Linked DNA regions of Homo sapiens. The protein of the gene in region 2 purifies or fractionates together with the protein of the main gene of each other region. This does not show direct contact. Each region holds a gene or a part of one and is shown on either strand. Other genes may lie near its edges.

The links.
Region 1: the proteins of PAQR5 (region 2) and PHYHIP purify together in Homo sapiens (affinity purification with mass spectrometry; 3 studies listed by BioGRID and IntAct, with this or other methods). This does not show direct contact.

The regions. Positions count from the first base shown.
Region 1 is NC_000008.11:22,229,090-22,236,189, forward strand, and holds the start of PHYHIP (phytanoyl-CoA hydroxylase-interacting protein), read right to left. Parts: upstream 3,011-7,100; 5' UTR 2,707-3,010; intron 1-2,706. UniProt on the Homo sapiens protein: Its interaction with PHYH suggests a role in the development of the central system.
Region 2 is NC_000015.10:69,378,892-69,385,915, reverse strand, and holds part of PAQR5 (membrane progestin receptor gamma), read right to left. Parts: intron 6,461-7,024; exon of another isoform or gene 6,317-6,460; coding exon of another isoform or gene 6,308-6,316; intron 6,034-6,307; coding exon 5,906-6,033; intron 1,240-5,905; coding exon 1,034-1,239; intron 1-1,033. UniProt on the Homo sapiens protein: Plasma membrane progesterone (P4) receptor coupled to G proteins. Seems to act through a G(i) mediated pathway. May be involved in oocyte maturation.

The DNA.
Region 1 (7,100 bases), on a different chromosome or scaffold from region 2:
GGGCCGGCCATGTGCTCATAATTTCACAGACGTCTCATGCAACCTTGGAAGTAGGCACACACTATCATTATCTCCATTTTACAGATGAGGCGACTGAGGTTGGGGAGGTACTAACATGCCCAAGGCCACGCAGAGAGCAAATGATTTGAACTCCGGCACCCAAGCTCTTGATCACTAAGCTAAGATAGTGTCCCCTCATGTGTGGGGGTGGAGGGGCACATGTGTGGCGTGTGTGCATGCATGGGTGCCCATGGTGTTTCCACCTGGCATTTTTCCTCCTTCCATCGTTTCCTTTCAAGCAACTGCATTTTCTCTCCCCTCCCTGTCTTACTCCTTTGGTTCTCCCCTTATGTCTGCTGCTCGTCCAGGTATGAGAGGACCTCATCACGGTCACTCTCATGTGTGCTTTAGCTGGGAAGAGCTGACTCTGGCCATGACTCTGGCCTGGCTGGCCTAGCTCCGGGATGGGGAAGAGCAAAGGGAAGGGGAGTGACAGCGTCTGGGAGGGGACAGCAGACGTGGGTGGGGCATTCTCCAGGGGCATTTGGTCTCCTGCTTTCCAATCCCTTCCTCCAGCCCAGTTCCTGGCACCCCTCATTTTTCTAAATGTCACCTCCTTCTCTTCTTTCTCCCCTCTTTTTCTCCTCCCCTTGCCCAGGAGCTAGTGGTGAGGGCATCTTGTGCCTGCAAAAGCAGGTACTTTTATTTATAGCTTCCAGAGGATCCAGCCCACACCTTCCTGTCAATTAAGCTTGCTCCAGAGCCTGGCACCTCTGTATTAACCTGTGAGTTGCCTGGATGGCAAGTACAGGGTGAAGGCTAAAGGTGATGGCCCTTACCTGCTCCAGGTGTCACTCAAGTCCTGTTTCATCTTAGCCTCCCACCCCACAGCCAAATGCCGGTGGCTTTGTGCATGGGGAATCCTATGGTAAATAAGCATGGCGGTGCTACCAGGCCCACCCCAAAATCAGGCAGATGGGATTGAGTGTCTGGAAACAACCCTACCATAATAAACCAGTTTGTAATTCATGGGGACAGGTGTGGAGCAGTGGGGAGTTACCATCTCTTGGGAACCTGGTGAGAAGCTCCCAGGGAGACACACATGTGCCCCTCACACACACACACGCACACACACACACGAACACAGACACACTCCTACCCAAGAGGCCCTGAGCGGCACCCACCCACACGCTCGGAGGCAGCCCACACTCGTCCCATGAGTAGGCACCTATTCCTGCCTCTCCTTGGAGTCCTCCTAGAAATAGGGGCAGCTGTGTTTGGCGGTAGGGGTCTCCAGGACCTGGGTGTCTGCTTGTCCCTCCCTCCCTACGGTTCTGGGAAAGCTGAGATGACATCCCCCCGCTAGCTTGGGAGGGTGGCAGTGAGTGAGCTGGGGTGGACAGAGGGGTGGGTGTGAACCCAAGTTCTCTACACCCAGAAGACTGGGGAAGGGCAGGGTGTGAGGGACAGGTTGAGGCAACACCCGAGAAACACCCACACTCCTGTGTGGATCCACCCCAAGACAGGCATGTACACACCCACACACAGGCAGGCACGCACGCGCATACACACATGCGCCAAGAGTGCCCACCCACCCGCGTCCCACACCTCCGCAGATGTCCTCACTCCCACACACCCATCTCCACATTCAGGTGCCTGCTGCCACCTTCCACATTCTAAGAATGCCCCACAGTTTTCCCTCTTCAATCTGTCACCTCCATGCACACCCAGACATGTTCATGTCCACAGGCTCACGCACACACACGTCCACGCACACCGCCTCACAAGCCATATGTGGGGAAAAGAGGATGCCACAGGCACCAACATGCATGTGTGCCACCTCCACAAGAAGGCACGCAACCCACACGCCTGCCGGCACACACATGTGTGTTCATACACACAGCAGCCCCCGCCCGAAGTCTGGTATTCTCTCTCGAATCATCTCCAGGCTCAAAGACAGACTTTGAAAATGTGTTTGCCTCTGGCCACACTCTGCCAGCCCTGAGCCTTCATGCCAACAGGTTTGTGCACCTACGTGGCTCTGCCCACAGACAATGGTTTCTGCCCCTTCTTCTCTTTACCCACTCCATCCTGCTCTGGGTCTCACCTCCCCATATAGAAAGCCCCTGTCTGCATACACTCCCACACACATGAAAAGGGACATGGTTACCCCTAAATATACTGCCTCATAGTGTCCCCACCCACGCACACCCACAGGCTACTCAAATAAGTCCCCCACACACATGTACCTCACGTGTGCCAGAAAGATATGTTTCTAGACATGCCTCACACCATTCAAAACCCACACATGAGCATGACTGCGGACAGACGGACCTATCTGCGCCAGCAAGCCTCCAGCCAACTCGCGAGCGCGCACACACACACGCCGCGCACACCGGTGCCCCTTCCCCATGCCCATTCAAACAGCCACCCTGCCACAGGGAATGCTTCCCCCACCCTGCTGTCCCTGTTGGCATCGCTGACTGCAGCAGAACGGTCACGGGGTGACTAACTGTGGTGCCCCAGAGACTGGATTCAGCCATTAACCACTTTGCCAAAGGCCTGGCCGGGGGGGGGGAGAGGGGACAAGGTCGTCAGGCCTGGCAGTCCAGGTGGGCACCCTGGGTGGTGGCAGGACCCTAGAGCCCCCAGATCCCGGCTACTCAGGATCAACAGCAGCAGGTTCCAGGGAGGAAGGGTACTCACCTGGCTCCACTGGGCTCTGCAGAGGAAAAGCTCGCAGGGAGGACAGGGAGAGACCTCTGCGTGGATGAGCTCCCCGGCAGGGGACAGCAGCCGGACGCCTGGGTCACGGGCAGTGGCGTGCGCTTGCTCCTCTCCCGGCTGCCAAGGAGGCTGCTTCCATGCCCCGCAGCCAGCTCCTGTCTGGCTGTGCAGCGCGTCGCTGCTGCCCCTGGTGAGACGATGTTCCCAGCTGAGCAGCGCAAGAAGAGAGGCAAGAGCGAAATCAAAGCAGCGTGGAGGAGAGAGAGGCAGAGAAGGGAGAAAGAACGAGAGAGCCAGACCGAATCTGCCTCCACCAATGGGATCAGCGGCTGCGCAGCGTCAGGTGATAATAAGCAGGCTTGGTCCCTGCTCGCCGGGCTGGTGGGAGGGGGAAAGGGCAGAGGGTCTCCCAGGGAGCTACACAGATGTCCTCAGGGACAGCAACACACGCCGCCTTTCCCCCATTCTTCCAGGACAAGCTGCCCTCAGAAGTCCCTCCAACACACCCCCTACTTGGAAATCTCTGACTTGAATGCAGCCCCCAAACTTTAGGATGCTGGGAGAGGGGTGGAGCTTAGCCAAGGGCTTGGGCCCCAAAGCAAAGACTCTGATTGGGGGAAGGGGAGGGAGGCTGTAGAGGGGAAAGGTCCAGATGGGGGGTGTGAAGCTGGGGTGGCTGTCTTCAGTCCGGAGCCTCTCCTTGGGGCCTTTTGGTGAACTGTGGTTCCATTTTCTTACCAACTCTAGAGAGAGATGGCAGACCTGCAGCTCAGGGATCCCTGTGGGTCTGGCAAGAACCCTCTGGCAGCTTGGGGGTCCACAGGAAAAGGGGCTGGGAGAGAGGCTGTGGCACAGTGCAGGGTGCACAGGGGTAAGAAAATGGGGGTGGGAGAACACACCAAGCTCTGAGTGTCCTCAGCCCACCCCACTCTCTGAGCACAAAGGAAGCCGGCCCTGGGCATCTTGGGGAGAGAATGTAATTCTGCTCTCACGGCAGCAGGAGGCTGTTCTGCCATCAAGAAGCAGACTCCGTGGAGGCCATCGGGAAGAACATCCAAGGAAATGTGAGTCCAGCAGCAAGCAGGGACAGAGGGTTGCGCAGTGGTGAAAAGCACAGGCTCACAGTCAGATGGATGTGCTGAGAATCCCTGCTCTACTGCTACCCAGCTGGGGGACCTTGGACAAGCCACTCAACCTCTCTTCATCTGTCAAGTGGGATCACACAGGTTTATTGTCATCATGGAATGAAATAATTAGGTAAATCGCCCAGCCCTGGGCCTGGCACATCAGAAGTGCCAGTCACATGTCAGAACTGTTCTTGTTCCCATCATATCGACAGCATCTTCCTGCAAGGAGCCCACAGTCCTCTACGGGAGAGAAGATGGCCATTTAGAGGATGCAATTAGAGAATGAGGAGCACACAACTAAATCGTAGGGCACAGATACTCATTCAGAGAAAGAACAATGGGCGGCTCCAGGGCACGTGCAGGGTGCAGGCCAGAGGAGGCTGTGGAAGCAGGAGTGCGGCTGGGGTGGGGAGGATTGGCACGGGGGCAGCTGACACCAGGCAGGCCCAGGGTGAGGTCTTGGTGAGCAGGAGAAGGTGTGAGCTGAGCCTAAGAAACACTCACCAAGAGGGAGTTGAGGCGGCAGGCCTCAGTGCAAAAGTCAGAGGAGGTAACAGCAGCAGAAAGTGAGAGTTCACAGAATGCAAAGACAAGCAGAAGCCAACCCTGCCTGAAACGGCTGTGAGAACCTCAGTGAGCCTGGCCAGGTCCTGAACTGCCGAATGTGGGGTGGTGCGTGGCACTGAGGCAGGACTAAGCACCCCCTTGGCCAAGCATGACTACGTCCTGCTCCGACATACCCACGCCGAGCTGGTGAGCTCAGAAGAGATGCAAAACGTAACCTCCTGGTGATGGCCAGCACATGACATCTGGACTACAATTCTGTCCCAGGCCGGGCGCAGTGGCTCACAAGAATCCGAACACTTTGGGAGACTGAGGCAGGCAGATCACCTGAGATCAGGAGTTCGAGACCAGCCTAGCTAACATGGCGAAACCCCATCTCTACTAAAAATATAAAAATTAGCTGGGTGTGGTGGTGGGCGCCTGTAATCCCAGCTACTTGGGAGGCTGAGGCACAAGAATCGCTTGAACCCGGGAGGTGGAGGTTGCAGTGAGCCAAGATTGCACCACTGCACTCCAGCCTGAGTGACAGAGTGAGATTGTGCCTCGAAAAATAAATAAATAAATAAATAATAAAATCCTGTCCCTAGGACCACACAGAGGGGCAGTGCAAGGAAAAAGGCAGGTTCTCTGTGACTTGGTTTCCCCTTCTGCCAAAGGAAAACTAGCCCCAGCACCATCCCTGCCTCCCACCTTCTCGGGATGTCATGAGGAGACTGCACGAGGTCCTGTGGCCCAAGCATGAGCAATAGCCATCTGAGCGCCCCTTTGTGGAGCTGCGTGCCGGCGACAGGTGAAGGCACAGCCCTTTAGGAGCTTCTGCCTCTTCTTGCCTCAGAGGACTTCTCTACAGATCACGAGAGGAAACACGTGGTAAGAGCAAACCATAGTGTGCCAAGTATAACTCACTCCCTATGAAACCAAACAACCGCCAAGATGCACTTCTGCTGCATTTTTATTTTTCATAACTTTTTATGACACAAGTAGCACATGATCATTGTAGAGAGACGAGCACATTTCATTTTAAAATTTAAGAGGGAATTTAAATCTCTCATTTTCCCACCATGCAGAAATACACATTAAATACATATAAAGAATTTTTTTAATTAATTTTTTTCGAGACAGGGTCTTGCTCTGTCACCCCGGCTGGAGTGCAGTGGCGCAAACTTGGCTCACTGCAACCTCTGCCTCCCTGGCTTAAGTAATCCTCCCACCTCAGTCCCCTGAATAGCTGAGAGTATAGGCGCACACCACCACACCTGGCTATTTTTTTTATTTTTTGTAGAGATGGGGTCTCACTGTGTTGCCCAGGCTGGTCCCAAACTCCTAAATGCAAGCAATCCACCCGCCTTGGCCTTCCAAAGTAGTTGGGATTACACAGGTGCGAGCCACCACACCCAGCCAATACTTGTATAGAATTTATTAACAAAAATAGAATGAAAGAATGCTGTTTTGTAACCTGCTTTTTTCACTTACCAATATCTTTTCTGTTCATCATATAACCTTTTTTTTTTTTTTTTTTTTTTTTTGAGACAGAGTCTCGCTCTGTTGTTCTGTCTCCCAGAACCTGGGAGGTGGAGGTTGCAGTGAGCCAAGATCACGCCACTGTACTCCAGCCTGGGTGACAGGGTGAGACTCCATCTCAACAACAAATTTTTTTTTTTTTTTTTTTTTTTTTTTTGTAGAGACAGGCTCTCACTATGTTGGTCAGGCTGATCTCCAACTCCTGGTCTCCAGTGATCCTCCTGCCTCGGCCTCTCAAAGTGCTAGGATTACAGGTGTGAGCCACCATGCCCAGCTGATCAACTCCATTTTAAAAAGGTGGAGGGTGGGAAAGAGGACTCAGGCCATAAGTAGTAAAACTAGTTAGTATTCAAATTCAGGTCTGTCTGAGTACCAAGGCCAGATTCCTCGTGGTAGAAAGATGCATAGCAAATATAGAGTCTGATGTAATAGAGAATGAGACTATAAGCAAAACATATTTACAGTCTTAATATTGCTTATGCACTTTATAGATTTAAAATGTTTATGTGTATTTCCCTATGGCTGAACTCAGTGTGGGGATCCGGTGAGCCAATGAATGCACATACATCAGGTAGTCCGTGGAAACCACTTTTGTCCTTTACATGTGTTTACAATGACAAGAGTGGGCCATGAGTATTTATAAGAACTACATGGATTTCTCAGTGCTTATTTCCTTTTCTTTTCGATATTATGTTTAGACAACCTATAACCTTCACTGGTCATCTATTTTAATGAAGAGCATTAACCTAATTCTAAAAACATTTACTAAACTAAAGAAAAAGTATTTTATGGCTGGGTGCAGTGGCTCATACCTGTAATCTCAGCTCTTTAGGAGTCTGAAGTGGGCAGATCACTTGAACCCAGGAGTTCGAGACCAGTCTGGGCAACATGGTGAAACCCCGTCTTCACAAAGAGTACAAAAATTAGCTGGGCATGGTGGCATGGGCCTATAGTCCCAACTACTCTGGAGGCTGAGGCAGCAGGATTGCTTGAGCCTAGGATTTGGAGGCTGCAGTGAGGCATGATCGCTTCACTGCACTCCAGTCTGGGTGACAAAGCGAGAACCTGTCTCAAAGATATATATATTTTAGATTTTGTAGAAAACTTAAATATTTAACCACTTTAAGACATGGGAAAATGCTGAATTATATTAAAGGACTC
Region 2 (7,024 bases):
GTGAGTGTATTGTGTGTGTGTCAATGTGTGAGTACATGTGGCATGTGGTGTGTGTGTGTGCATGTAAGTGTATTGTGTATATGTGGTGAGTGTGTGTATGTGCATGTGTGAGTGCATTGTATGTGTGTGTGTCAGTGTGTGTCAGTGCATGAGTGTGTGTTTGTGTGAGTGTGAACGTGTGTATATGAAGAAAGAGGATGGAGGTAGGCTCCTCATGGACAACCTCTTGGGCAAGGAAGACAATAATTGGTTTTCTCACCTAGAATGGGACCTGGAGGAAGAATCTAGAACTCATATCCTTAGGGATAGATGCATGCCCACAAGGGGAGGAGAGAAGAGGCCAGAGGAGGGAGCATCATAGTCAAAGAAAAAGACAAGGAAGAGGGGGCGGTCAGCACCGAATTTCACCAGCTTAGGTTGCTGATCTATTCCCGCACACTCTGAGCATCTCTCTGATTGTGCTAAGCCTCTGGATATACGAGGCTCATGACCTCACCCTCCTCTTCTTGCCTGGCATGACAGAGACCAGCACTGATGTACTGGAGTCAGTTCATTCTGGCCTGTGAGAGAGCTGAGTGCTGAACACAGCCATCATTAAAAATTAAATCACAGAAACTTGCAATTAAATAAATCATATTAACAAAAGTACTGAGTACTCAATGACTACATCTACTGTATCTGCATGGTGGAATTTCTGTAATAGTGTGCTACGCATATCTCTTCCCACCCTTGTGTTCTGTGATGTCATGTTAGTAGGTTGAAGCTGGACATGATGGGAAGATTTACACCACAGAAACTGGCAACACTGCAGATCGGGGCTGTTGTCCCCACAGAGCCAGTGGCTAAATATTTAGCAGCATGCTTATGGACAGTTTCTTATAAAACACCCATTGGGAACCTGGACAGGGGCACTGGCATAATCCCTGGATTCTTCTGCAAACTCATCAAAGCCTTCTGGTGACCCTAGCTCACAGGAGAAGGGGCAAACAGCCCGGTTGCAGGGGAAGGAAAGCAAGAACAAGGCCTCACATACCCAGGCTGAAGAGGTTGACGGCACCATAGTCCAGGAAGTAGCAAATGTGCCGGGCATTCTTGGACATAGAGCTGAAGGTGTGCGCACAGCTGGACACAAGTGGGTACACGCAGCTGGTGCACATGTACACAAGCATGGGCCAGGAGTAGCTGTCATTCTTGATGTCTGTCATATACAGTGCAGTCACAAACCTCCATGCAAAGAACCTGGAACACAGAGGGCTCACTCACCCTCCACCATGAACACAGAGGGCCCGCTCACCCTCCACCATGAACACAGAGGACCCGCTCACCTTCCACCATGAACACGGAGGGCCCGCTCACCCTCCATGATGAACACGGAGGGCCCACTCACCCTCCACCATGAACACGGAGGGCCCACTCACCCTCCACCATGAACACGGAGGGCCCACTCACCCTCCACCATGAACACGGAGGGCCCGCTCACCCTCCACCATGAACACGGAGGGCCCGCTCACCCTCCACCATGAACACGGAGGACCCGCTCACCCTCCACCATGAACACGGAGGGCCCACTCACCCTCCGCGATGAACACGGAGGGCCCACTCACCCACGGAGGGCCCACTCACCCTCCACCACGAACACAGAGGCCCACTCACCCTCCACCACGAACACAGAGGCCCACACACCCTCCACCATGAACACGGAGGGCCCCCGCTCACCCTCCACCGTGAAAACAGAGGCCCCGCTCACCCTCCACCATGAGCACAGAGGCCCACTCACCCTCCACCATGAGCACAGAGGCCCACTCACCCTCCACCATGAGCACAGAGGCCCCGTTTACCCTCCACCATGAGCACAGAGGCCCACTCACCCTCCACCATGAGCACAGAGGCCCACTCACCCTCCACCATGAATACAGAGGGCCCGCTCACCCTCCACGATGAACACAGAGGGCCACTCACCCTCCACCATGAACACAAAGGCCCACTCACCCTCCACCATGAACACAAAGGCCCACTCACCCTCCACCATGAACACAAAGGCCCACTCACCCTCCACCATGAACACAAAGGCCCACTCACCCTCCACCATGAACACAAAGGCCCACTCACCCTCCACCATGAACACAAAGGCCCACTCACCCTCCACCATGAGCACAGAGGCCCACTCACCCTCCACCATGAGCACAGAGGCCCACTCACCCTCCACCATGAGCACAGAGGCCCACTCACCCTCCACCATGAATACAGAGGGCCCGCTCACCCTCCACGATGAACACAGAGGGCCACTCACCCTCCACCATGAACACAAAGGCCCACTCACCCTCCACCATGAGCACAGAGGCCCACTAACCCTCCACCATGAATACAGAGGGCCCGCTCACCCTCCACGATGAACACAGAGGGCCAGTCACCCTCCACCATGAACACAAAGGCCCACTCACCCTCCACCATGAGCACAGAGGGCCCGCTCACCCTCCACCATGAGCACGGAGGGCCCACTCACCCTCCACGATGAACACAGAGGGCCAGTCACCCTCCACCATGTACACAAAGGCCCACTCACCCTCCACCATGAGCACGGAGGGCCCGCTCACCCTCCACCATGAGCACGGAGGGCCCGCTCACCCTCCACCATGAGCACGCAGGGCCGCTCACCCTCCATGATGAACATGGAGGACCTGCTCACCCTCCATGATGGAAGCCCCTCTTAGATCCTCGCCTATCTACTGTCTCCATTCCCCCGCGGTGACTAATTCCTTCGTGTTCTCACTTTGGGGAAATACCATGTGCTAGGAAGGTGGGGGGTCCTTTTTTAATTGGGAGGCAGTACGTTGGGAATGGGCAGGTGAAGTAAGAAGAGAGGCTTTATGTATATCTAGTCCAATCCCCTAGTGATTCTCCAGCCTCAGCTTGCATGCTTCCAGGGATGGGGGGCTCATTACCTCCCAAAGCAGCTCCAAGGGCTGGAAAGTTCTCCTTCATTGGCTCAAATCTGTCCTCCTGGAATCTATCTCCATTTGATTGGCCTTAGTTCCCTCCACCAGGATCATAGAAAACAAGCTTAACATATGCATATATATATATATATATATATATATATATATATATATATATGGTCATATATATATATATATATATGGTCACATATATATACACATATATATACACACATATATATATACACATATACATACATATATACATACATACATATATATATATATATATATATATATATATATATATATATATATATGCTTTTTTTTTTTTTTGAGACAGAGTCTTGCTCTGTCACCAGGCTGGAGTGCAGTGGCACGATCTCGGCTCTCTGCAACCTCTGCCTCCTGGGTTCAAGTGATTCTCCTGTCTCAGCCTCCCAAGTAGCTGGGACTACAGGCACCCTCCACCACGCCTGGCTAACTTTTGTATTTTTAGTAGAGACAGCGTTTCACCATGTTGGCCAGGATGGTCTCGATCTCCTGACCTTGTGGTCTGCCTGCCTCAGCCTCCCAGAGTACTGGGATTATAGGCATAAGCCACTGCGCCCGGCCGCCTGTCAAATATTTCAAGGCAGTCTTTCTAACCCCCTCCCACCTCCTTGAACTTCACATTAAATACTCCCGGTTCCTTCAGCCATTCCTCGCAGGATCTAAATGTGGCGTTACCACCATCCCCGTGGTTTGTCCTTCCTCCATGTAGTTTGTCTATGTCCCTCTTGTAGGAAGGCTCCTCAAATAGAAGCAATGCCCCAGGTGGAGCCTTGCAAGCCGAGGCCAAGAGAACTATTTTCTCCCTCCTCCTCCACACTGTTCCTCCACTAAGAGTACAATCACTTTTCGGAATAGCTAGTCCCACAGCTGACTCTTAGCAGAGCCTAGATCTCTATGCAGAGACACTTCAAAATTCTTCACCAGGTCTGCCTGGCCTACAATCCACGCATGAGGTCCCGCCTGCAGAGCACCTCGCTTCCACAAATCACTCCTAGAGAGCTGGCTCCCTTTCTCACTAACTCCTCCAAGGGAGGAGACTCTACAAAGCTTTTCATATGCAGGAGCTGAAGGAACATTGCTAAATCCTTCCAGCTACACTTGTGGACTTTTTAATTTTGTCCCAGCGGGAAGTAAAGCTTAAGCTATTTGCTGTTTCTCAAAATGTATCCTTCAGTTATTTCAATTTTTCAGTGGTCCCATTTCCTTAGGGCATCTTGATCCAGACCTCCCCAAGTCCTTCCTGCTACTCTCTGTTGCTCAGTCAGGATCATCTCTGAGAGCCTGGCACCGTGTAGAAGTGCATAGGCAGTGCTGGAGGTGATGGGGGTGCGGCTCACCCAGCTTGGCTCAGCTGTAACATAGCAAAAAATCACCCTACAGGGATCCATGCATGGAGTGCAAGACCCACAAGCAGGGATGGACAGGCTGGTACCCTTTTAGCAGCTCAAATCTCAAAACAGCCTAAATCAACCATGATTCATCCAGAAAATGGAACACCAAGCAGATGTTCCAAAGTCCAGGAGACATGCAGATTGCAGATGCTGACAGAGTGAGATCTCCAAGGGAGGGAAGTAAGAGGAAGGCAGCAGGGAAAGAGGCAGATGCTGTGGATGCTCACAGCACAGATGCTCCTGGGTCCCCCAGAAAAGCTCCAGGAGGACGCATAGGAAGCAGGTCCCCCTGGCCACTCCAGGGAGGAGAACTGGGGCCAGTGGCAGAGCCTGACTCTATTCCCTTCTGAAGGGTTATAATTTGTAAGCATGTATACTTTTAAAAATGACAAATGGCCCCTGGAGCAGGGCTGTGCTGCCACCCCTGCCCAGTCCGCAGGCCCAGGGCTGCCACACTCCTTTACAGATCACCCTAGTCCACACCAGACTGAGCTCTCTCCCCTCTCCACTGAGCTGGCTGCTGGAACCAAACAGCCTGCCCCTGCATTTTGGCCCCGGGTCTGTCATCTGACTTCTACTCAGGCTGGCTGCCCCTGTGCGGGGAGCCTGGGCCCATCTCCACTCATGGCACACTCCTCATCTCTTCTCAACATGACTGGAGGGAGTCCAGTGACCAGCCTGTGCCACGGCGCCCCTGCATGACGTAAGGACGCCACCCCGTCTCTCGGCTGTGTCTACATCGACCAGTGGTGGTCTGAGTGGGACAGTGGCTTGAATGGCCTCTGAGTTCTTCCAGCTCAGATCCACTGTGATTTGGTGCTTTGACCCTGTCTCCATCCTCCATTCCTTAAGCAAAGGTGTGCAGTGTGTGACATTGGCCTTCATCCCCCACCTTTCTCAGCAAGGCCCCTCTTCGCTTCCCTGGCCACTTCCATTTCTGCATACAGGCTTCCCAGAGCTTTGCTCTTAGCTGGCTCCATCTACAGGCTGCCTGACCAAGTGCCTCCCAGTTGTCGTGGTTCCCAGAATGATTACGGAACACCCACAACTCTGTGGCAGATGCCTCTACCAATGTTTTCTCCCCAAACCCTCACAGCAACCCTTGGGGAGGTGCGGACCATCACTCCTGCTTTGCAGGTAGGAAAATGAGAGGCTCAGAGAGGTTGACTTGCTCAAACTAGTGACATTTTAACCAGGGCTCCTGGAAGACCTGGAAAGTCTCCAAGACCGGAGATGAAGGTAAATGCTATCATATCAGGCACCGGAGCAGGGAGCAGGAAGGACTGAGGCACTTTTGGGATTTCCCCTCAAATCTTACCCCAGTCCATGCCTTAAAGGTCATCCCAGTGGCACACCCAATGTCTCTTCCCTCTGTCACACACTCCCTTCACCCGCGTGTACCCACGGGGGATCCCCAAACCCCAGCACAGAATCTCAGCCCTCTCAACACTAGCCATGTTTTAAGACACCCTGGTCTCCAGGGCTCCTGAAGGAGACAGGCCGGTCGAGGGGGCCAGAAGGTACCAGAAGGGCAGCAAGTGAGTCCAAATGTTGAGAGTCTCATTGGTCATTTGGAAAAGGCTGAGGATGCAGGCAGTGGCAGAACTCTGTGGATGGCGGTAGCCGAACAGGATGCCTTGCTCATGGAACACCTGCAGAGGCAAAGGAAAAGGACACTGAGGTGAGACCAGAGGGTGGCACGAAGGTCTCTGGAGAAACATCTTCCAGGCCGTGCTCTGTGTGCCTGGAACGCTTGACCCCAAGTCCTTAACCTGTTAAGCTGTTCCCCTCACTCTCTCCTTCCCTCGCAGTAGCTTCTAAAATCCCTTGTCCTCCAAGAAGCCTCCAGCTAGCTGGGGGAGGGAATTCAAGGGCCAGGCTCCCTTTGGGAATCCAGCCTGTCTTTGCATTCCCCGGCGTACTTACTCTTGGCATGAATCTTGCCTAAGAATCCGTTTTCTCACCCCTCTGCCTGGGGCCTACAGCCCAGTTTTTGGACGCCTTTTTGGTGAGCTGACACAGATGCTGTCTGTCTGAGCTGGCAAGCCCTGCATGTCAGGGGCTGGTGGGAAGAACTCTGCAGAAGATGCCCCCGGTGCCAGGATATATTCACCAAGGTGCTTCATAAAGGGCTTTTGATGATGAGGACCACGATGCTGATGCCTGGGCTGCAGGAAGAGGAGGTGGCTGCCCACAGCACGGCTGCTCAAGTCACCCCCACCCCCATGCAGCCCATTTGGCAAGTCCCCCCCAAAAAACACCCACTGAGAAACCCGGACTGGTCAGGTGAAATATGGGGTATCAACCTGCCTGGAGTATTGTATTACATCCACTAAAAGTGGTAAGTGAGAAGATAATGAGGCCAGAGGCACAACAGCCCAGGATACAATAATAAGTGAAGAAATGTGGAATTTAAACTATATTCCTGCCATGGTTAGAAGAGCTTGGGAAAATGAAGTTTACACCATGGGGCAGAGGCTGGGAGGAACATAGAAAAGTGAAGTGTTTAATTTGTTGAGGTAGCAGGATTGCAGGAGACCTGTTTTCCCCTTCTGTGTTGATTTAGACCAAGGGTTCTCAATTTTGACACTATTGACACTTTGGGCCAGATCATTGTTTGTTGTGGGGGCCAACCTGTGAGTC